Linked DNA regions of Homo sapiens: region 1 is linked to region 2. A link means that fine-mapping ties the variant in region 2 to the expression of a gene that starts in the linked region. Tissue or cell type: tibial nerve. Region 2 holds a variant in brackets; the other region holds the start of a gene. All regions are shown on one strand. Distances are between the middles of the regions.

Region 1 (10,785 bases), 38 kb before region 2:
AAACCTGGCCTTTGGGGTTCAACAACAGTGTCATCTGACCTTGAAGAGCTCATGAGAACTTGCCATGAACATTAACATGCTGGGAGATTTCACTGGAAAATCTAGATTTCCATCGTCTCTTGAAAAATCAGAAGATCAGGCCGGGTGCGGTGACTCATGCCTGTAATCCTAATGCTTTGAGAGGTTGAAGCAGGAGGATTGCTTGAGGCCAGGAGTTCAAGACCAGCCTGGCAACATAGCAAGACCCATTTCTACAACAAATTAAAAAGTTAGCTGGGCATGGTGGCATGCACCTGTGATCCTAGCTACTTTGGAGGTGGGAGGATTGCTTGAACCCGGGAGATCAAGGCTGCAGTGAGCTGAGATCGCGCCACTGCACTCCAGCCTGGGTGATGACAGTGCGAGACCCTGTCTCATAAAAAGGGAAAGGAAGGGGAAGGGGAAAAGAAGAGGAAAAAAAGTAAAACAAACATTTTATGATTTTTATAACACAGGCTCAGTTATGGCACTGCACATGTAGGGGTGGATTTGACCCATCAAACACAGGTCTGGGGCCTCTGCCCTAGGGAGTGTGGTTACTCCGTTCCACACCCAGTTTCCTCTATAGGGAGCTCTGAGCAGCCCTAAGTTTGGGGTGAGCGATGCAGCTTCAGACCCCAATGTCTGAAGGGGGCGGTCCAGCCTGGGGGAGAGCTGAGGCTGGTTACATGCAGACCCACCCCACTAAAGGAATGCGGTGCTTGGATGGTTCCAGTACTAAGGCCAAACACGAGTTTGTCACAAAAGCTGAAAAATACATGGTGAGAAAGAAAGAGGGAAAGATCAGGAGATCCGATAACTTTGGAATCCAGGTCCCAGAGGGGCAGGAACTGAGGGTCAGATGGGACATCCGAGGTCCCGCAGCTCTGTCTAGTGCTGCTGCATCGCCATCGTCATCCGCTGGCGTCCCCTGCCTGAGCTCTGCAGGAAGCTCGGTTTGTGAGCTCTGTGCCAGGAGTCAGGTATTTCCTGCCTCCCACTCACCCCTGCCCAGAGCAGAGGACCCGCTCCCCGAAGGCCTTACCAGAGACATTGAGGTGTATTCGTTCCATCCATTTCTCAGTCTTGGACTCCATCCTCAGCCCCAGCTGACCACTGTCATTGAGGTGCACCGGGTGGATACTCAGTGTGCAGTTCTTATTCTTGTCTCCCAGGAATTGCACCCTTTTCTGCTCAGAAGGAACCTTCCCATCCTTTGTGCTTTCATAGAGTCTTGTCCCATCAAACTTCGAGGTGTTCTTGTTATACTCAGGATTGTGGAACAGGATGAAGCTTTCCAGGTCACCATCTAGGGCTCTGTAGGTGCAGGGGATCCAGACGCAGGCCCCCTCCCAGGCGTAGAGGGTTTCAGGGTGCTCAAAAACCCATTTACTTGAGTCAGAGAAAGCCAAGTATTCTAGAACTCACCACAGTGATCAGAAAGCATTACTAAGGGGGCATGAGAGCCTTCTTTTAAAAGTTATTTTTTATTTTAAAATTTGTTTAATTTTTTATTCTTTTTAGAGATAGGGGTCTTGCTATGTTGTCCAAGCTGGCCTTGAACTCCTGACCTCAAGTGATCCTCCCACCTCAGCCTCACAAAGTGCTGAGATTTCAGGCATGAGCCACTGCACCCAGCAGAGAGCTTTCTAAAGACTAAAGAATTCCCTCTGAAGATAGTGGGAGAAATACAGAGATACACAAAGACAGCAGGATGCAATGAGAGAAGTGTATGTATATATGGGAAACATATATATTTGTATGTACATTTATCTATACACACCGCTGCCCCCACCCTACCCTATGTTGACGCCTCTCTGCCTGGGTCTTTCCTCCTCCTCCAGTGCCCACTGACATCCCAGAACCCCAGTACTAGCCCAGGCCACAGTCCTTACCCAGGAGCAGGAGCCAGGGGCCGAGGAGATGCATGGTGTCGTGTCTGGGTGCAAGCCTGAGCAGGGGAGAGTTTGTCTTTGAGCCATCTGGCCGCTTACTTCTTCCACGTGGCTTTTCTTGCTCACCCACTGAGCTCCGACCCTTCCCCTGGATCCGGGAGGACCGGGTCTGGTTGCATTATGGGGATGTGGCATTTGGGATGCTCACGGAGTTCTTTCTTTTTTTTTGAGACAGAGTCTTGCTCTGTCTCCCAGGCTAGAGTGCAGTGGTGTGATCTCCGCTCACTGCAACCTCTGCTTCCCAGGCTCAAGCGTTTCTCTGGCCTCAGCCCCCCAAGTAGCTGGGTAAAGGCAGGTGCCACCACGCCTGGCTGATTTTTGTATTTTCAGTAGAGATGGGGTTTCACCATGTTGGCCTGGCTGGTCTTGAACTCCTGATCTCAGGTGATCTGCCAGCCTTGGCCTCCCAAAGTGCTGGCACTACAGGTGTGAGCCACCACTCCTGGCCGGGAGTTTTTTCTGAGTGTGCTGCACCTCTCCTTCAAACTGAGAGCCCTGCGGGGGCAGCCTCTCTCTCTTCCCAGAACTCCTTCCTTTCTTCCTTCCTTCCTCCCTTGCTTGCTTTTTCCCATCCATCCATTCATCCATCTCTAATTTTATAAACTTCCTGCCTGGCTCACAGGCTTTGAGTGGCACCAGACCACTGAGTGCTTTGAATGCCAGGCCCCGGGTAACGTGGAGCTCTCTCTGGTGCTACTCATCAAGGATTATACTCAGGGACAGACATGGTCAAAACTTGGTTTGAAAGACCAGGTAAAAAGGAATTCTAAAACCAGTAACAAAGTATGGGTGAGCCAGGCGCAGTGGCTCACACCTGTAATCCCAATACTTTGGGATGCCAAGGCAGGCAGATCACTTGAGGTCAGGAGTTCAAGACCAGCCTGGCCAACATGGCAAAACCCCATCTTTACTCAAAATGCAAAAAATTAGCCAGGCGTGGTGGCGTACACCTGTAATCCCAGATACTCATGAGGCTGAGGCAGGAGAATTGCTTGAACCCGGGAAGTAGAAGTTGGAATGAGCCGAGATCATGCAACTGCACTCCAGCCTGGGCGACAGGGCAAGACCCTGTCTCAAAAAGATAAAAAATAAACTAAAAATGTACAGAGCTGGTCAAACAAAACCTATCTGTGGGTTAGGTTCTGCAACTGTTGCCCATCTTTCTTTCTTTCTCTGCAGTGAGCTTGTCCTCTACCATCCCTGACCTCTGCATAGAGTTATATTTACATAGAGTTAAATTTAAGTCCCAATTTACATGATCATGGCCCTCCGTGCTGGCCCCCGGGGACCCTGAAGGATGTGACAGCAGAGTGTGTCTCCGGTCTCAGCACCAACCCAAGCCCCTCCCACTCACCTGCCAACATTTCACACGCATCAATGTTCCTCTCTCTGTCTGTTTATCTCCTCGGGCCACATGGCTCATGCCAAAGGCTGCTGGGTATCTGTTCATGGGTGTGCGGAAAGCTAAGCTGCTTGCCGACAGCAGGAAGGGGGTCTGGCCTGGGCTAAGCATGAATTTGGGGTGCAGGGTCTGAAGCTGAGGCAGATTCCCCAGGCAGAGCTGACATCAGCCCCGCAGGTACTCATCATGTCACATGCAAAAAACATCTTCAAGGTCACATACACTTGAGAAAGGCAGGGTAAAAGAGTTAAGTAAGATTCTTTTTTTTTCTTTTGAGACAGAGTCTCATTCTTCTGTCGCCCAGGCTGAAGTGCAGTGGTGTGATCTCAGTTCACTGCATCCTCTGCCTCCAGGGTTCAAGTGATTCTCCTGCCTCAGCCTCCTGAGTAGCTGGGACTATAGGCATGTGCCACCACACCCGTCTGATTTGTTTGTTTGTTTGTTTGTTTTAGTAGAGATGGGGTTTCACCATGTTGGCCAGGCTGGTTTCAAACTCCTGACCTCAGGTGATCCCCCCAACTTGGCCTCCCAAAGTGCTGAGATGACAGGCGTGAGCCACCGCACCTGGCTTAAGTAAGATTCTTTACTGCAGGACTTTAAAAACCTTTCAGTAAACTCTATCTACACCATTAATCTCTAGACATGGGGATTAGAGTATAGTATAATACATTGTCCATACTTCTTTGGCCATGGGATCTATTTTACATGTTCCATAAAAAACTTAGCAGGGTTGCAGAGCCAGAGTTCTTTGAAATCCCCTTAAGGTTACCTAAGGGGTAACAAGGGCTGTGGCAAGGACTAGACTCCGTTCCCTGCAGCCAACACTTGCCTCCAGGAGCCGGGCCATTGTCCCTCCTCTGCCAGCACCCTCCAGCCACAACCTGCTCTGGGACGGGCTGGAGCATCCCAGCATGAGTGGGAGATGGGCGCCTCCAGAGCAGGACTGTGTGCTGCCTCAAGGAGCTCCAGGAGTCTCTGGAGCACAGGAGTAGGGCCCCAGGCCCGGGAATTGGAAGGCTGAGGGTGGGGTGGAGGTTAGGGACAGCAGTTATTATGCACAGAGGCTCAGGACAGGGCCATGCTGTCCAGACCTCCTCAGTCCAGGCCTGTTGAGGGCCTTGCAGAACCTTGGGGCTGACCTCCCTGGCTCCTTCTTCCCTCCTGGGCATCCAATAACCTACCCTACTCTCAGAAGACTCAGCAGGCCTGGCAAGGAGGATGCTCAAGACAGGGGTCTGTCTACAACCTGTTGTAACACCGGTAAGAGAGAGCCAGGGAGGTCCCCACTGTGTTCCCAGCTCTGGGAGGTATGCCTGGCCCATAACTGCTGTTCCGTAATAACTTGCTTGTTGAATGCAAAATAAAAGCAAAATGATTTTTACCTGTTTCCGCGTGTCTTCCCTCTTCAGGGACCCTGGCAGCATCTGAGAGCAAAAGGAGAAGTACAGTAAAGTCTCTGGTGACAGAGGTTTCCCCTCCATGGCCACACCCCCTGCTTCTCTATGGCTCTGAGGGGGACCAAGCAGCACCGTGATCTGGGGAGTGGGGAAAAGAGACGATTGAGGGGGATGCGGGCTCGGAGTCAGATTGGAAGACTCGAATACGTATGGGCAGTTCTTCCTTTCCGTGTATGGGTTTGCAATATCAGATCAGTTTCAGAATGGGCTCCTCCACAACTCCCCCTCTACCCAGCTCTCAGGAAATGCGAATGACTCAAGCCAAGCAGGAGAACTGCAGCCCGCTGAAAAAGGCACAGGCCTACCTGAAAGTATTTGTAGTTTAGTGACACCATCCAGTTATTACCATTTCCACTCTTTTCATCATAGGCATAAATGGTGGGGAATCTGACCACCTACACTGAAGCCCCCAAGGGTTGAGGGAGGAGCACATAGATATTGAGGAGGAAAAAGATATCTCGGCCGGGTGCGGTGGCTCATGCCTGGAATCCCAACACTTTGGGAGGCTGAGGCGGGTGGATCACTTGAGGTCAGGAATTCGAGACCAGCCTGGCGAACATGGTGAAATTCCGTCTCTACTAAAAATACAAAAAATTAGCTAAGTGTTTTGGCAGGCGCCTGTAGTCCCAGCTACTCAGGGGGCTGAGGCAGGAGAATCACTTGAGCCCAGGAGGCGGAGGCTGCAGTGAGAAGAGATCACACCACTGCAGTCCAGCCTGGGTGACAGAGTGAGACTCTGTCTCAAAAAAAAAAAAAGAAAGAAAGAAAGAAAGAAAGAAAAAGAAAAGATATCTTGTAGGACTGGGCATGGTGGCTCATGCCTGTAATCCTAGCGCTTTGGGTGGCCAAGGCGGGTGGATTGCCTGAGCTCAGGAGTTCAAGACCAGCTTGGGCAACATGGTAAAACCCCATCTCTACTAAAAAAAAAAAAAAAAAAAATCCAAAAATTAGCTGGGTGTGGTGGCGGGCGCCTGTGGTCCCAGCTACTCAGGAGGCTAAGGCAGGAGAATCACTTAAGCCCGAGAGGCTGAGGTTGCAGTGAGCAGATCGCGCTGTGGCACTCCAGCCTGGGTGACAGAGCCAGATCCTGTCTCAAAAAAACAAAAAAGATATCTTGTAGGAAGTGTTATTGAATGGAGAGTCTTTAGGCTGAAACCTCATCACCTTTATAATCCTGTAGCCAGCGAGTGTCTCAGGAGCAGAACAGACAGCATTGGAAGCCATGCACATCCTACAGATGAAGAGGGATGCGCTGAGAGGTCTTCACTCCAGCACCACTGCCCTCTATGGGCAGCTGGCCATAGGGAGGGAAACAGAGAGAGGGAAGAACACCTTCTTCCAAAAGCACCGATAGGGCTGGGTGTGGTGACTTATGCCTGTAATACGCTTTGGGAGAGCAAGGCAAGAGGATTGCTTAAGGCCAGAAGTTTGAGACCAACCTGAACAACACAGCAAAACTCTGTGGGGCTAGTCAACAAAAGCAAAAAATGAAAAGTAGCTGGGCATGGTGGCCCATGCCTGTGGTCCAAACTACTTGGGAGGCTGAGGCAGGAGGATCGCTTGAGCCTGGGAGTTCAAGGCTTCAGTCAGCCATGATAGCACCACTGCACTCCAGCCCAGGCAACAAAGTAAGACCTTGTCTCAGTAAATAATAAATAAATAAAATGAACAAAAAGCAGTGATGTTCTGGAAAGATGGAGTAGATGTATTTATTTATTCTGCCAAGTATAACTGAAAACCTTGAACGTGACAAGACAAGCATAAGAAGACTGAAAGATGGAGAGAAGCAGACTGGTTAGGAACCTCGGGACTTAAGGAATGGTGGTGAATTCCCTGGGATTTCTCTTTGCCTCATATATCTCAGGCTGAATACTGGAGAAGCCAACAACTGAAAATGCCAAGGGGCACAAACAAGAAAAAGTCCCAACAGAACAAGTTCTAGCAAAACTATGCTTTTCTAGCCAAAGAACGAGGAAAGGGGCATCCTAGAAAGACAGAGCTCTTTTAGTCCATACCTGCTCCGCTCCATCCAAGTTCCATCATCACCCTTGTCAGCAAAGGCCGGATGGAAAACCTAGACATTCACCTTCACCAGGCTGTAACAAAGAACCCTAGGCCACTCCCATACTCAGCCAGAGTGATGCTAGAGTTGGAGCTGGGACATTCCTCCCCACTGGGATCACCCTCCCCCGATGTGGTGTTGGTGGAAACCATGTGGGCAGCCTGGACATCCACTGCCACCCCAATGCAGAAATGAGGCATTCCACCCGGCCCCATTGGAGTAGTGTCAAAGGGGGCCTGGTGGAGAGTTGGGACTTTCGCCACCACTCAGTGGTAACAAGCACCCCCCTCTCTCTGCCACACACAGTGTCAGTGAAAGCCACATAGGGAGCAGTAATGAAGCATCCCTCCCACTCCCAGCCAGGGAGTTGTCATGGATTCCTAGTGGGGAACCTGAACTTCTACCCTTACCAAACAATAACATGGAGGCCTCATCTCTCCCAACCCCCCAGGTTCAGGAAAGGCTGGATGGAGAACCTGGACTTTTATCCCTGTCTGGAAGCAATCAGGCAGTGCCCTACTTTATTTCGCTGGAGCAGTATAAAGGGAAGCCCACTAAAACAAAATATTTAAAGAAGATCCAGAATCTTATAACACAGTGCCCAGAATATCCTGACTTCAATGGCAAATCACTTGTCATACTAGGAATCAGGCATTCTCAAACTGAATAACAAAAGATAATTAACAGACACAAACATCAAGACGACACAGATGTTAGAATTATCTGACAAAGATTTTGGAGCAGCCATCATAAAAGTGTTTCACTGAGAAATTATAAATGTGCTTGAAACAAATAAAATAATAAAAAGTATCAGCAAAGAAATAGAAAATATAAAGAAGAACCAAATGGAAACTTTAGAACTAAAAAATACAACTAAAAAATACAAGAGCTGAAATAAAAACCATAATGGATGGGCTCAATAGCAGAATGGAGAGTATAGAAGAAAGAAGCAGTGAAACAAAACGTATAACAATAGAAATTACCCATTCTGAACAATGGAAAGAAAATAGATGAAAGAAAATGGAACAAAGCCTCAAGGACATGAGTAACTATAATAAAAGAAGATCTAACATTTTGTCATTGAAGTCCCAGAAGGGGAGGAAAAGGAGGGTGGGCCTTAAAAAAATATTCCAAGAAGTAATGGCTGCAAATTATCTTCATTTGACAACACACACGCACAACATATGTCTACAGATTCAAGAAGCTGAGCGCATCACAAACAGGATAAACCCAAAGAAATTCATGCCAAGACACATCATAGTCAAACTTCTAAAAACAAGAGGCAGAGAAAATTCTCGAAAGCAACCACATAAAAATGCAAAAAATTAGCCAGTTGGGTGGTGCGTGCCTGTAGTCCCAGCTACTCAGGAGGCCAAGGCAGGAGGATCACTTGAACCTGGGAGGCGGAGGTTGCAGTGAGCTGAGATCCTGCCACTGCACTCCAGCCTGGGCAACAGAGCGAAACTCTGTCTTAATTAAAAAGTAAAATAAAATAAAAACAAAAAACCTCTGGAAGATAACATAGGAGAAAATCTGTGAGACTTAGAGCTTGATGAAGTGTTCTTAGACATGACACCAAAGGCATGATCCCTAAAAAAATCAATCCAACTTCATCAAAATTAATTTTTTTTTGCTCTGTAAAAGACCTAGTTAAGAGAATGAAAAGACAAATTACAGACTAAGAGAAAATATTTGCAAACCACATATCTGACAAAGGACTCCTATCTAGAACAAATATATAAAGAACTCTCAAATTCAACATAGAAACACTACATAAAAAAATCAAATCATCCAATTAGAAGACTGGCAAAAGATATAAAGAGAAATTTCACCCAAGGGGATATATGGATAGAAAATAATTATCTAAAAAGATATTCAACATCACTAGCCTTTAGACAGGTTAAGACCATGATGAGATATCACTACTAACATCTATAAGAACAGCTAAAATAAAAGATAGTATCAAATACTGGAAAGATGTATGGAAACTAAATCATTTATATATTGCTAGTGTGAATATAAAATTGTCCAGCCACTCTGGAAAAAAGTCTCAAAACAGTTCCTCCAAAGATTAAGCATAGAATTACCATACACTCCTGCATCTCCACTCTTACATATATAACCAAGAGAAATAAGAACATGTTCACCCAGAAACTTGAACACAAATGTTTACAGCAGCATTATTCATGAAAGCCAAAAAGCAGAAACAACCCACATGTCCATGAAGAGATGAATGAATAAAGAAAATATGGGAGACCTAAACAATAAAATATTATTTGATAATAAAAAGGAATGAAGTACTGATAGATACTACAACATGGATGAACTTTTTTTCGAGACCGAGTTTCACTTGTTGCCCAGGCTGGAGTGCAGTGGTGCCATCTCGGCTCACTGCAACCTCTGCCTCCCAGGTTCAAGCGATTCTCCTGCCTCAACCTTCTGAGTGACTGGGATTACAGGCATCCGCCACCACGCCCAGCTAATTATTCATATTGTTAGTAGAGACGGGGTTTTACCATGTTGGCCAGACTGGTCCTGAACTCCTGACCTCAGGTGATCCACCCGCCTTGGCCTCCCAAAGTGCTGGGATTACAGGCGTGAGCCACGGCGCCTGGATATGGATGAACTTTGAAAACATTAAGTGAAAGAAGCCAATCACAAAATGTCACATATTGTATGATTCCATTCACGTGAAATATTCAGAAAAGGCAAATCTGTAGAGACAGAAGTAGATGTAGCGGTTGCGTAGGGCTGGGGTGGGGTGGGAAAGGTAAGAGGAAATGAAGAGTGACTGCTAATGGATGTGAGATTATTTTGGGGTGATGAAATGTTCTAAAACTGGTTGTGGTGATGGTTGCATAATTCAGTGAATAGACCCAAAACCATTCAATTGGACATTTTACATGGGTGTGTTTTATGGTATGTGAATTATATCTCAGCAAAGCTGTTATATATGTAGTATATATGTAATATATAACAGCTTTACATACAGCTTTAACACACATATGTGTGCATATATGTGTGTGTATGTATATTGTGTGTGTGTGTGTACATATATATATATATAAAATAAAAATCAGGCTGGGCACGATGGCTCACACCTGTAATCCCAGCACTTTGGGAAGCAAAGTGGATCACCTGAGGTCAGGAGTTCAAGACCAGCCTGGCCAACATGGCAAAACCCCATCTCTACTAAAAATACAAAAATTAGCAGGCATGGTGGTGTGCGCCTATAATCCCAGCTGCTCAGGAAGCTGAGGCAGGAGAGTCACCTGAGCCCAGGAGGCGGAGGTTGCAGTGAGCTGAGATCCCACCACTGCACTCCAGCCTGGGCGACAGAGTGAGACTCTGTCTCTAAATAAATAAATAAATAAATAAATAAATAAATAAATAAATAAAAAACAGTCCAGTTAGAAAATAGGCAAAAGACATGATGACACCTTTCCCTGAAGAAGGTATATAGAAGGCAAATAAGCACATGAAAAGATGTCTCACATCACCAGCCATTAGTGAAATGCAAATTGAAACCCATGACAAGATACCGCTTTAGAACAGCTAAAATTAAATAACCAATAATGACAACACCAAACACTGGTGAGGATGCTGTGAACTTGAAACATTCACACACGACTGGTGGGGATGCAAAGTGGTCCAGCTACTCTGGAAAACAGTTTGCCGGTTTCCTGAAAAACTAAACAAAATATACCTACCAGATGACCCAGCAATTGCACTCCTGGGCATTTTATCCCTAAGAAATGAAAACGTATGTCCACATAAAAACCTGCACACAATTATTCACAGCAGCTTTGTTTGTAATAGCCAAAAACTGGAAACAGGCCAGGCACGGTGGCTCACGCCTGTAATCCCAGCACTTTGGGAGGCCGAGGTGGG
Region 2 (10,445 bases):
GGGCTATTGAAGTACCAGACACCATGCACCACAGCGGGCCGCAGCTCATCCGGGAAGTCAAAGCGGCAGGGGATGGAGACGCACGTGCCTTCGAAGGCCGAGATGGACGAGGGCATCCAGGCACCCCAGTGACCCCCTCGGGAGGCTGCGGGCAAGCAGGAGAGCTGAGGCTCAGGGACACGTCCTACCCGATCACCCCCTCCGGCTCCCATCCCCAACCACATGCCGGGGGGCTGCGGGGACCCACCTCCAACCTGCTCAGGGGCCAAAGCCTTTAGGTCCCCAGCACCTGTCAGCCGTTACCTGAAATCATAATCCAGAACAGAGGCAGTGCCGTGAGGAATATCATTCTGTACAGCGAGTGAGTGATCGCTGGAAAGGGAGAGGAGAGGGTTAAAGGCTGGGGGAAGTGAAAGGGGGTGTTCCATCTGGGCTTCAGGAAGGGGCCCATTCATATGTTAGCTGCTGCTGCTATTATTATTTATTTATGCATTTATTTACTTATTTTTCTGAGACAGGGTCTTGTTTCATTGCCCGGGCTGGAATGCAGTGACACAATAACAGCTCACTATAGCCTCAAAATCCTGAGCTCGTGTTATCCTCTTGTCTCAGCTTCTGGTATGCGCCACCCCACACCCAGTTAATTTTTCTTCTTTTTTGTGGAAATGGTTGTGGAGGTGGGGTCTTACTATGTTGCCCAGGCTGGTCTTCAACTCCTGGCCTCCAGCAATATTCCTGCCTTGGCTTCCCAAAGGATTACAGGTGTAAATCACCATGCCTGGTCTGCTGATATTTTTTAACTTTTTACTTTTTGAGATGGGGTCTCAGCCCTGTCACCCAGCCTGGAATGCAGTGGTGCAATCGTGGCTCACTCAACTGCAGCTTCAATCTGCCAGGCTTAAGCGATCCTTCAGAGTAACTGGGACCTCAGGTACACACCACCATGCCTGGCTAATTTTATTTTAGTTTATTTATTTGGTTATTATTATTATTTTTTTTAGAGATGGGAGTCTTGCCATGTTCTGTGTTGCCCAGACTGGTCTTGAACTCCTTGGCTCAAGCGATCCTCCTGCCTCAGCCTCCCAAAGTGTTGGGATTACAGGCATGAGCCACCTCACCCAGCCTGCTGCTATTACTTATAATTATAAACCCTTCTATGGCATTGGCCATGTGCCAGCCCTCACTGCTTATTCTGCTGTCTTAACTCATTGGATCTCTTTGAGGAAGATGCATTATCCTCATTTTATAGCTGAGGTCCAGAGAGGTTAAGTGACTCGCCCAAGGCCACACAGTTGGTCTGCAGTCTTTGCTGCATGTCCTGTCTCTATGCAGTGATGATGTGCTGATCATTATCTTTGTCACCGTGATGCCCCTGGAGATCTCCAGAAAGTAAGAACCAGAGAGCCAAGGCAGGGCCAGCATTGCAAAGCTGAAGCAAGGGAAGAGAGTTGGTACCCTGCCCCTCACCTGAATCTCCCTGAGTTGGGGACGTCTTCTGGGTCCACCTGAAGCCGCCAGACAACCTGCATGCAACAAGAGTCACTCAGGTGCAAGGGGGCGGGATTGAGGCACCCAACCCACCCCCGCTTCAGTATCTCCTGCATGGGTTGTGACCTGTTGTCAGGCTGCCCATGTGGCCCTCCCATTGTGCCTGGGACCCTCCCACACAGCCTCGAAGCCACTCTCTGGCAACAACTCCCTCCAAGCTGGGGTGTCAGAGAACTGTGGGGAGGGAAGGGGGAACGACCGCATCGGGGTACGGGGGTGAGACTGAGGGGTGTGGCGAGTGGAGTGAGGGAGCAGATGTCCCACGGCCGGGGCCTGGGGGTGGCGGGCAGGGACCCAGAGCCATCAATGACTGGGTTTCACAGTATCAGCATTCCCGACATGCCGCGTGAATTCCTGCCGCCCTCTCCCACCCCACAGACGGCCCCTGGTGTCCGCACCCTCACCAGAAGCTGGTCCCCGGTACAAAAGAGTCCTGTTCCCTCGGGGAGAGGGTGTTTTAGCCTGCGGGGGGCTTTCAGGGTAAGTGGGGAGTAAGAAAGGGGTCAGGCACTCCTGGCTGGCCTTTGAGCAGGGCCAGGAAGGCCCAGGGTGGGGGCTAGCGAGCCCCTGGCACCCTGCTGCTCCATGGGTTGCCTTGGGGTTGCAGCCAGGGTTTCCAAGCAATTGCTTTTCCCAGCCTTCACCGCCCTCTTCCCACGGACAGAGACACATGCACAGACACATCCAATCGCGGGGATGAAATGTGACAGATGTAGCCCCAGCCAGAAGGGGCAGGCACACGCAGCGGAGACTCATACAGACACCCAGACAGGACCCTGAACACACAGACAGGCACAGGGACCCCTGTGCCCACAGGGATGGGCTGGCACTCACATAGTTCCCAAGGCGTGCATGCAATGCCTCTGCTGCTGTCCACACACACCTGGACAGACACAGCCCTGGCATTCAGCACACACACACACACACACACACAGCCCAGCATGCATGCCAGGCTAACAAAGATGCAAGGAACTGCACACACACACTGAGGATGGCTATAGACGCGTCCACTCAGACACGCGCCGATGGACACCTGGCCGACGCTGCCCTTGCACCTGTGACAGGAAGGTACAGGAGAGAGATGCAGATGAGGATGAGCACGTGCCCGGGCAGACATGAAACAAGCAGGTAGACCATGCACTCTTAACAGCGGGGAAAACAAGTTCTCGGGATGGGGGCCAAATCAACCTCAGCTATTACAGTGTGTGTGGCCACAGTCCATAAACATATGTACAGCAGATCTGTTGGATTAAAATGCCAAGGGAAGGATGGGATGAGGACAAATGCATCTAAAAAGTTTCTGTAGTTGGGGCCGGGCGCAGTGGCTCACGCCTGTAAACCCAGCACTTTGGAAGGCCAAGTTGGGAGAATCTCTTGTGCCCAGAAGTTTGAGACCAGCCTGGGCAATATAGTGAGAGTCCCGTCTCTTAAAAAAAAAAAAGTAACGAAAAATAAAAAGTGTCCTTAGTGGGGATTAATGAAGAAAAGTCGACTGAGGCTTACAGAGGAAGGTGCATGGGCAGCCATGTGTGTGCACGCACACGCACACACACACACACACACACCTGCTATGTGCCCAGGTGCTAGAATGCAGTCACTAACAGCCCACTGCCCCCATCCACCTCCCAGATTGCAGCCTGCAGGTGTCTGATCACCTGGACATCCTTCCATTCTTCGGCCAGATGCAGACCTCCTCCACCCCATCTGCCCCGCACTCGGGAACCCCAAGGAAACCTCTCCTGCAAAATCTTCACCCACAAGGGGTGCTGAGGGGGGGCCCTTTGTTTTTTCTCTCTGTGGTTTCTTCCCAGAGCCCCATCGCTGCCCCAGCGATGGTCCGAGCCCATCCCCAAAGCAGCCCCAAGCCACACACTCCTGCATCCTAAATCAGTAGCGGTGCACAGCGATGCTCCCTCACCCAGAGCACCTGACCCTGCTCACGTCTGGGTGCCACTGCCCCGGTGCCCTGCTCCCCTTGCCCTGGCCTCCCTGCCACCATACTCACTTGGACTCAGTTGCTTCTGCACCTCTGCTCCGCCAGCCCAGCTCGCAGTCCCCTGCCTTCCAGGGTCTAGGCCCCCACTTGCCAGCCCCTCCCCTCCCCCTGGGTGCCAGGGGCCGCCTGCCTCCAGGGCCCAGCTCCTCCCTACCCCC[G/A]GGGGAGGGGGGCACAAAGGGGCCCTTGTCACCACGGGGCTCGGACTGGGCAGCCTGACGCCTGGGTTCTCCTAGCTCTTTCCTGGAGGGGTCGGGAGTGGCTGCCTTGCTCTCTCCCCATCTTCCATCCCTGTACACCCTGATTCTGGGTCCCGGGGGTGGGGGGGCAGTCTAATCTCTTTGGAAGTCCCAGGCTGAGGGACAGAGGCATTGTCCTCAGGGAATCTTGGTGGCAACATTAGGTGGGCAGCAGGAGGAGACAGGTCCTTTCCACCCTCAACGTCAGTGTCACCTCCTCTTGCCATCTGAAATGACCTTCCGTGTTCACCAACTCCTTTCATGAGAACGTGACCTCCACCAGGCCAGAAGCTTCGTCTTGGATATTCTCAATCCATCCTTGCTCGTAGACAAGCTCCTGGCAGGCAGTTGAGCTTAATAAACAGTGTGGGTGGTTGAATGTGTTCCCCAGAGCCCCAGGGCACCTTCAGACTCAAGGCCTGTGCACCTGCTGCTCATTCTTCCTGGAAAGCAGTCCCCACCCCATAGCACTCCCCACTCTGGCACTGGCTGCCGTTCACCCATCCTGTAGGCTCAGCAGCCTGGGTGCCGCTTCCCTGGGAAGCTTTCCCATCTTCGCCCATCAGCCAGGCCCCTCCATTGCAATGCTGTCCTTTCCTTCTGTAGCCTTGGCAGGCTGGCCCGTGTGCACCCTAGGTCTGCCCGCCTCTGCCTCCCACTAACCCAGGAGCTCTCAGAGGCAGGGGCTCACCAGAAACCTATCTGCCTCTCTGTCTGTCATGTGCACCCTTCTGTCCCCGGGGCAGTGCTTGGTGCACATAGGACTGTGCTGACCAAGTTGGGCAAGGACCCTCTGAGTGCAGATTCCACCCCTTGGTCATGACTTTTGCAAGGTGGGTGGGGGCTCGGGGCAGCTGGAGGTGGCGTGACAAAGTGCAGCAGTGATTTCACCATGAGCTGTTCAGCCTCACTGGGACATCTCCTGTCCTCCTTCAGGCCAGAGCAGTGGGGAGGGGGGGTCCTCGCTCTCAAGGGAGAACCCAGGGGGTGAGGGGCGGGGAAATCCCTCAGACCAGGGAGAGAAGCGTTGTGGGGCTGGGGGGGAGTTGGAGGGGGAGGGGGAGTCCCACCCCCACCCCAGGCTTCATGATGTCAGACTCTGCCCGTGCCTTTCCCAGTCCGGGACAAAGGACCATTGAGAGTCGGGCGGGGCTTGAATGCCTGGGTCCTGGAGAAGAGAGGGGCCTGGTGCCTGGGCTTTGGTGGTGGTGGTCGGGGTGACAAGGAGATCCTGGGGGGTATTTGCATGTCACAGCCTTCAGCATCAACACCCACCTAGTTGGAGCTGGAGTCGTGTGCTGGTGCAGTGTGGGGCTCCATCTCCTCCCTGGGTGTGAACTGAAGGCTGTTGCTGGGGAGAGGACAGTGTCCCACAGGAGCACTCGCAATAGTCGCTGACATCAGCAACTCGGGTCTCCAGGAGACCTGTGGGAGCGAGGCGGCTGGAGCCCATGAGAGGAAGGGGCTGGGTGACAGGACCTGTGACTGGCGGGCAGGTGCCCTGTCTAAGGGGACAACTGACCCGCAGATCCAGTGGCCGGTGCTGCCGTATCAGCTGATCTTTTACGAGAGAGCAGGTGTATCAGTTTTCCAGGGCTGTTACAACAAAGTTTCACAAACTGGGTGGCTTAAAAACCGGAATTGAGGCCATGCACGGTGGCTCACACCTGTACTCCCAGTGCTTTGGGAGGCCAAGGCGGGCAGATCACGAGGTCAGGAGATCGAGACCATCATGGCTAACACGGTGAAACCCTGTCTCTACTAAAAATACAAAAAATTAGCCGGGCATGGTGGCAGGCGCCTGTAGTCCCAGCTACTCAGGAGGCTGAGGCAGGAGAATGGCGTGAACCCGGGAGGCGGGGCTGGCAGTGAGCGGAGATTGCGCCACTGCACTCCAGGCTGGGCAACAGAGCAAGACTCCGACTCAAACAAACAAACAAACAAACAAACAAAAAACCCTGCCAGAATTGAGCTTGAATTCCAAGATCAACAAGATCAAGTGCTGGCAGTGTTGGTTCCTTCTGAGGGGTGTGAGGATCTGTTCCGGGCCTTTCTCTGTATGGCATCTTCATCTTCACATTCCCTTCCCCCTGTATTCACCCCTGCCCAGATTTGCCGTTTATTTATTTATTTATTTATTTATTTATTTATTTATTTATGTTTGAGACATAGTATTGCTTTGTCATTTAGGCTGGAATGCAGTGGTGCAATCATACCTTACTGCCACCTCCACCCTCCAGATTCAAGCGACTCTCTTGCTTCAGCCTCTCAATAGTAACTGGGACTACTGGCACTTTTTTTTTTTTTTTTTTTTTTGCTAGAGACAGGGTCTCACTATATTGCCCAGGCTGGTCTTGAATTCCTGATCTCAAGCAGTCCTCCTGTGTTGGCCTCCCAAACTGCTGGGATTACAGGTGTGAGTCACTGTACCCTGTCAGATTTAGGAAACCAGTTATATTGGATTAGGATTCTCCCGTCTCATTTTAACTTGATTACCTCTGTGAAGACCCTGCCTCCAACTAAGGTCACATTCTGAGCTACTAGGCGTTAGGACTTCAATGTGAGTTTTGAATTCCTAGCAGCAGGAATTCAGAATGAAGCTCTCGGCCATGGGGAGCTCTCACTTAAAGCTTAAAGCTCTCATAGATGGGAGCTGAGGCTCAATCCATCCAAGAGCCTTTGCTGCCCTCAGACAATGGTGTCAGCTTCACAACCAGTCCTCCACAGGACTGCAGCTTGCTCAAAATGCAAGGTCAAGGGCCCCGCCTTGCACCTGTGGAATCAGAAATTCTGGAGGCCCAGCTATCTGCAGTTTATTTGTTTATTTGTTTTACAGACATCGTCTCACTGTGTCACCCAGGCTGCAGTGCAGTGGTGCCATCATAGGTCACTGCAGCCTTGAATTCCTGGCCTCAAGTAATCCTCCCGTCTCAGCCTCGTAAACCACTGGGATTATAGGCATGCTCCACCACGCCCAGCCTCATCTGCATTTTATTTTTATTTATTTAATTTTTTTTGAGACAGAGTCTCATTCTGTCACCCAGGCTAGAGTGCAGTGGCAAGGTCTCAGCTCACCTCAGCTTCTGCCTCCCAGGTTCAAGCAATTCTCGTGCCTCAACCTCCCGAGTAGCTGGGACTACACGTGTGCACCACCACACCCAGCTAATTTTTGTATTTTTAGTAGAGACGGGCTTTCACCATGTTGGCCAGGCTGGTCTCGAACTCCTGGCTTCAAGTGATCCTCCAGCCTCAGCTTCCTAAAGTGCTGGGATTACAGGCTTGAGCCACTGAGCCTGGACCCATCTGCATTTTTGCAGGCCCTCCAGGAGATTTTGAGCACGCTGAAATTTGAGTATCTCTGCTTTACATGTTCTCCCATCTCTCTAGGACCACCCCAGAGAACTGCTTGCTCAGGAGAGAAGAGCACCCCGTGTCATTAAGTGTAATTCCTGATTTCAGGTTTCCCACCTGCCAGGAGGGAGGCCTCTACCCTCTCCTGTCAATATGAATCCTTTACATTGAGGAAGCATTGGACAGTTTCCAAAGCAATTTCACACTCATTCCCTTGGTTGAGCAGCTCTAGAGCCAGTTAAGCTAAGTCCTGTATGGACTTAGCTTCTGTTCCTTTTTTGTTTTTTTTTTTTTTTTTTGAGATGGAGTCTTGTTCTGTCACCCAGGCTGGAGTGCAGTGGCATGATCTTGGTTCACTGCAACCTCTGCTTCCTGGGTTCAAGCGATTCTCCTGCCTCAGCCTCCAGAGTAGCTGAGATTATAGGTGTGCGCCAACACGCCTGGCTAATTTTTGTATTTTCAGTAGAGACGGGGTTTCACCATGTTGGTCAGGCTGGTCTCAAACTCCTGACCTCAGGTGATCCACCCGCCTTGGCCTCCCAAAGTGCTGGGATTACAGCGTGAGCCACCACGCCCAGTGCCTCTGTTCTTTTAAAGGTAAGGAGAGGCCAGGCATGGTGGCTCACAACTGTAGTCCCAGCATTTTGGGAGGCTGAAGTGGGAGGATCATTTGAAGCCATGAGTTTGAGACCCGCCTGGGCAACACAGCCAGATCCACGTCTCTACACAAAATACAAAACTTTAGCGGGGCGTGGTGATAGGCACCTGCGGTCCCAGCTACTCAGGAGGCAGAGGTGGGAGGATCGCTTGAGCCCGGGAGATCAAGACTGCAGTGAGCCATGATCACACCACTGCACTTCAGCCTGGGCTATGGAGCAAGACCCAGACTAAAAAAATAAAATAAAAAATACAGATGAGGAGGTGGAGCTCCGGATATGAAGAAGATGCATGCAAGATGTTACAGCTAATAAGAGGCCAAGCTCACCACAACTCCCCTCTCCCTATCCCTTCAGTTTTCATTCAGGAAACCTCCCCTCCCAGAGGACAAGCCTCTGTGGATTCCAAAGCGAAGGCAGACATTGATGGTGCCCCAGACTGATCTGGCGCCCAGCTGGGCTTCGTTTGGCTCACAGAATGTTGATGTTAAAAGACAAATTGCTTTGCTCAGTTGCCAATACTGTCAAAGCAAGAAATCTCTAATAAAAATAGGAATTCCCACCTTCTCTTGACAAAATCAGAAGTTCTAGTCAGGTTTACCTGCCTTGGGTGTGGCAGCCGTGTCTTGGAGCCCTCTCCCGCCCAGCCTGGGCCTTCCCACTCCCTGCCCACACCCAACATTGAGGCCGAATGACCAATGCCCTTTACCATCAAGTGAGAGCTGTTGCTTCCTGGGAGCTAAGAAGACAGTGAAATAACAGCCCCTATGTCTGTTTCTATCAAATGTGGGCAGGCCAGGCCCACCTGTAATCACAGCATTTTGAGTGGCTGAGGCGGGTGGATCACTTGAGGTTAGGCGTTTAAGACCAGCTTGGCCAACACGGTGAAACCCTGTCTCTACTAAAAATATGAAAATTAGCCAGGCATGGTGGCGGGCGCCTGTAGTTCCAGCTACTCAGGAGGCCAAGGCAGGAGAACCGCTTGAAACTGGGAGGTGGAGTTTGCAGTGAGCTGAGATCGCGCCACTGCACTCCAGCCTGGGCGACAGAGTGAGACCCTGTCTCAAAAATAAATAAATAAACAGTAAAAATATTTTCCCAGTTTCAGTTTCTAATACATCAGGCAACTAGAGATATAGCCCACTTTATCAAGAGCTTTTTGGAGTCCTCAATAATTTCTCAGAATGTAAAGGGGTCCTAAGACCAAAAGGTGTGAGGCCCATGGCCTTCAGAGGCCATCCAGGTATAGCAGATGAGCGAGGTATGGGGGATTGTTACACAGGAGCATCTTAAGTTGTATTCTCTCAGGAAGGACACACTTTGCACGTGAAACATATAGGAATATAGTTCACCTCCACAAGGAACTGAGTTCCTGCCCATTCTTCTTTTTTTTTTTTTCTGGAGACAGGGTCTCACTCCGTCGCCCAGGCTGGAGTGCAGCAGTGTTGTCTTGGCTCACTGTAACCTCCACCTCCAGGGTTCAAGTGATTCTCCTGACTCAGCCTCCTGACTAGCTGGGATTACAGGCACATGCCACCATGCCTGGCTAATTTTTGTAGAGACGGTGTTTCACCATGTTGGCCAGGCTGGTCTTGAACTCCTGACCTCAAGTGATCTGCCTGCCTCAGCCACCCAAAGTGCTGTAGGCATGAATCACCACCCCTGGCCCCTCCCATTCTTGAAAGCTGTATTGCTCTCATTTTCGTTGCCCCATTTTTTTTTTTTTTGACACCAGGTCTTCTTCTGGAACTCCCAGTCTTAAATTATCCTCCTGCCTCAGCCTCCCGAGTAGCAGGGATGGTGCAACTGCACCGGGCTAGAAACTGGGACATTTAAAAGCGTGAGATACACCAGCACACAATCCATTAGCCATCTGGTGATGATGCCAACAGGTGTCGCAGAGCCTCCTGGAAACTCCATTGTATACTCATGAGAGAACCAGGGTGAAAAAGGCAAATAAACATCTTTGTAGGCCGGGCGTGGTGGCTCACACCTGTAATCTCAGCACTTTGGGAGACTGAGACGGGTGGATCACTTGAGGTCAGGAGTTCGAGACCAGCCTGGACAACATGGCAAAACCCCACCTCTACTAAAAATACAAAAATTAGCCAGGTGTGGTGGCACGTGCCTGTAGTCCCAGCTATTCAGGAGGCTGAGGCAGGGGAATCGCTTGAACCTGGGAGGTGGAGGTTGCAGTGAGCCAAGATCATGCCACTGCCCTCCAGCCTGGGTGACACAGAGAGACTCTGCCTCAAAAAAAAAAAAAAAAGAAAGAAAAAAAAGGAAAAAAAAAGGAAAAAAAAAGTCTTAGTAGTTTCCACCTTCAGGAGCCCTACAAAAGGAGTCCCTGGATCTTACTTTGAGAACCTTTATAGCAGTGTCCAATGTTTTGGCTTCCCTGGGCCACACTGGAAGAATTGTCTTGGGCCACACATAAAACACACTAACACTAATGACAGCTGATGAGAAAAAAAAAAATTGCGGAAAAATCTCATAATGCCTTAAGAAACTACAAATTTGTGTTGGGTGCATTCAAAGCCATCCAGGGCTGCATGTGGCCTCCAGGTTGGACAAGCTTGCCTTACAGGCACTGATTTCTACAGCTGTTTTAGGAAGATCTCAAGGAGAGGAAACATTAACTTTCATCCCCTATTATTG

The links. PIP is the estimated chance that this variant, and not a neighbour inherited with it, causes the effect.
Region 1: CD22 starts here. The variant in region 2 is fine-mapped to the expression of CD22 in tibial nerve (GTEx, PIP 0.93).

Annotation. Positions count from the first base shown.
Region 1 is chr19:35,323,203-35,333,987 of GRCh38, reverse strand. It overlaps CD22 (CD22 molecule), which reads right to left and starts at 4,801. Exons shown (of 14, transcript NM_001771.4): 1 at 4,758-4,801; 2 at 1,914-1,969; 3 at 1,064-1,441. The coding sequence starts at 1,947. RefSeq lists silencers at 474-683, 10,480-10,539 and enhancers at 2,875-2,924, 4,055-4,104, 4,175-4,224.
Region 2 is chr19:35,285,313-35,295,757 of GRCh38, reverse strand. It overlaps MAG (myelin associated glycoprotein), which reads right to left and starts at 3,597. Exons shown (of 11, transcript NM_002361.4): 1 at 3,554-3,597; 2 at 1,468-1,523; 3 at 304-372; 4 at 1-145. The coding sequence starts at 349. The variant G/A (reference allele first, on the strand shown) is at 3,703.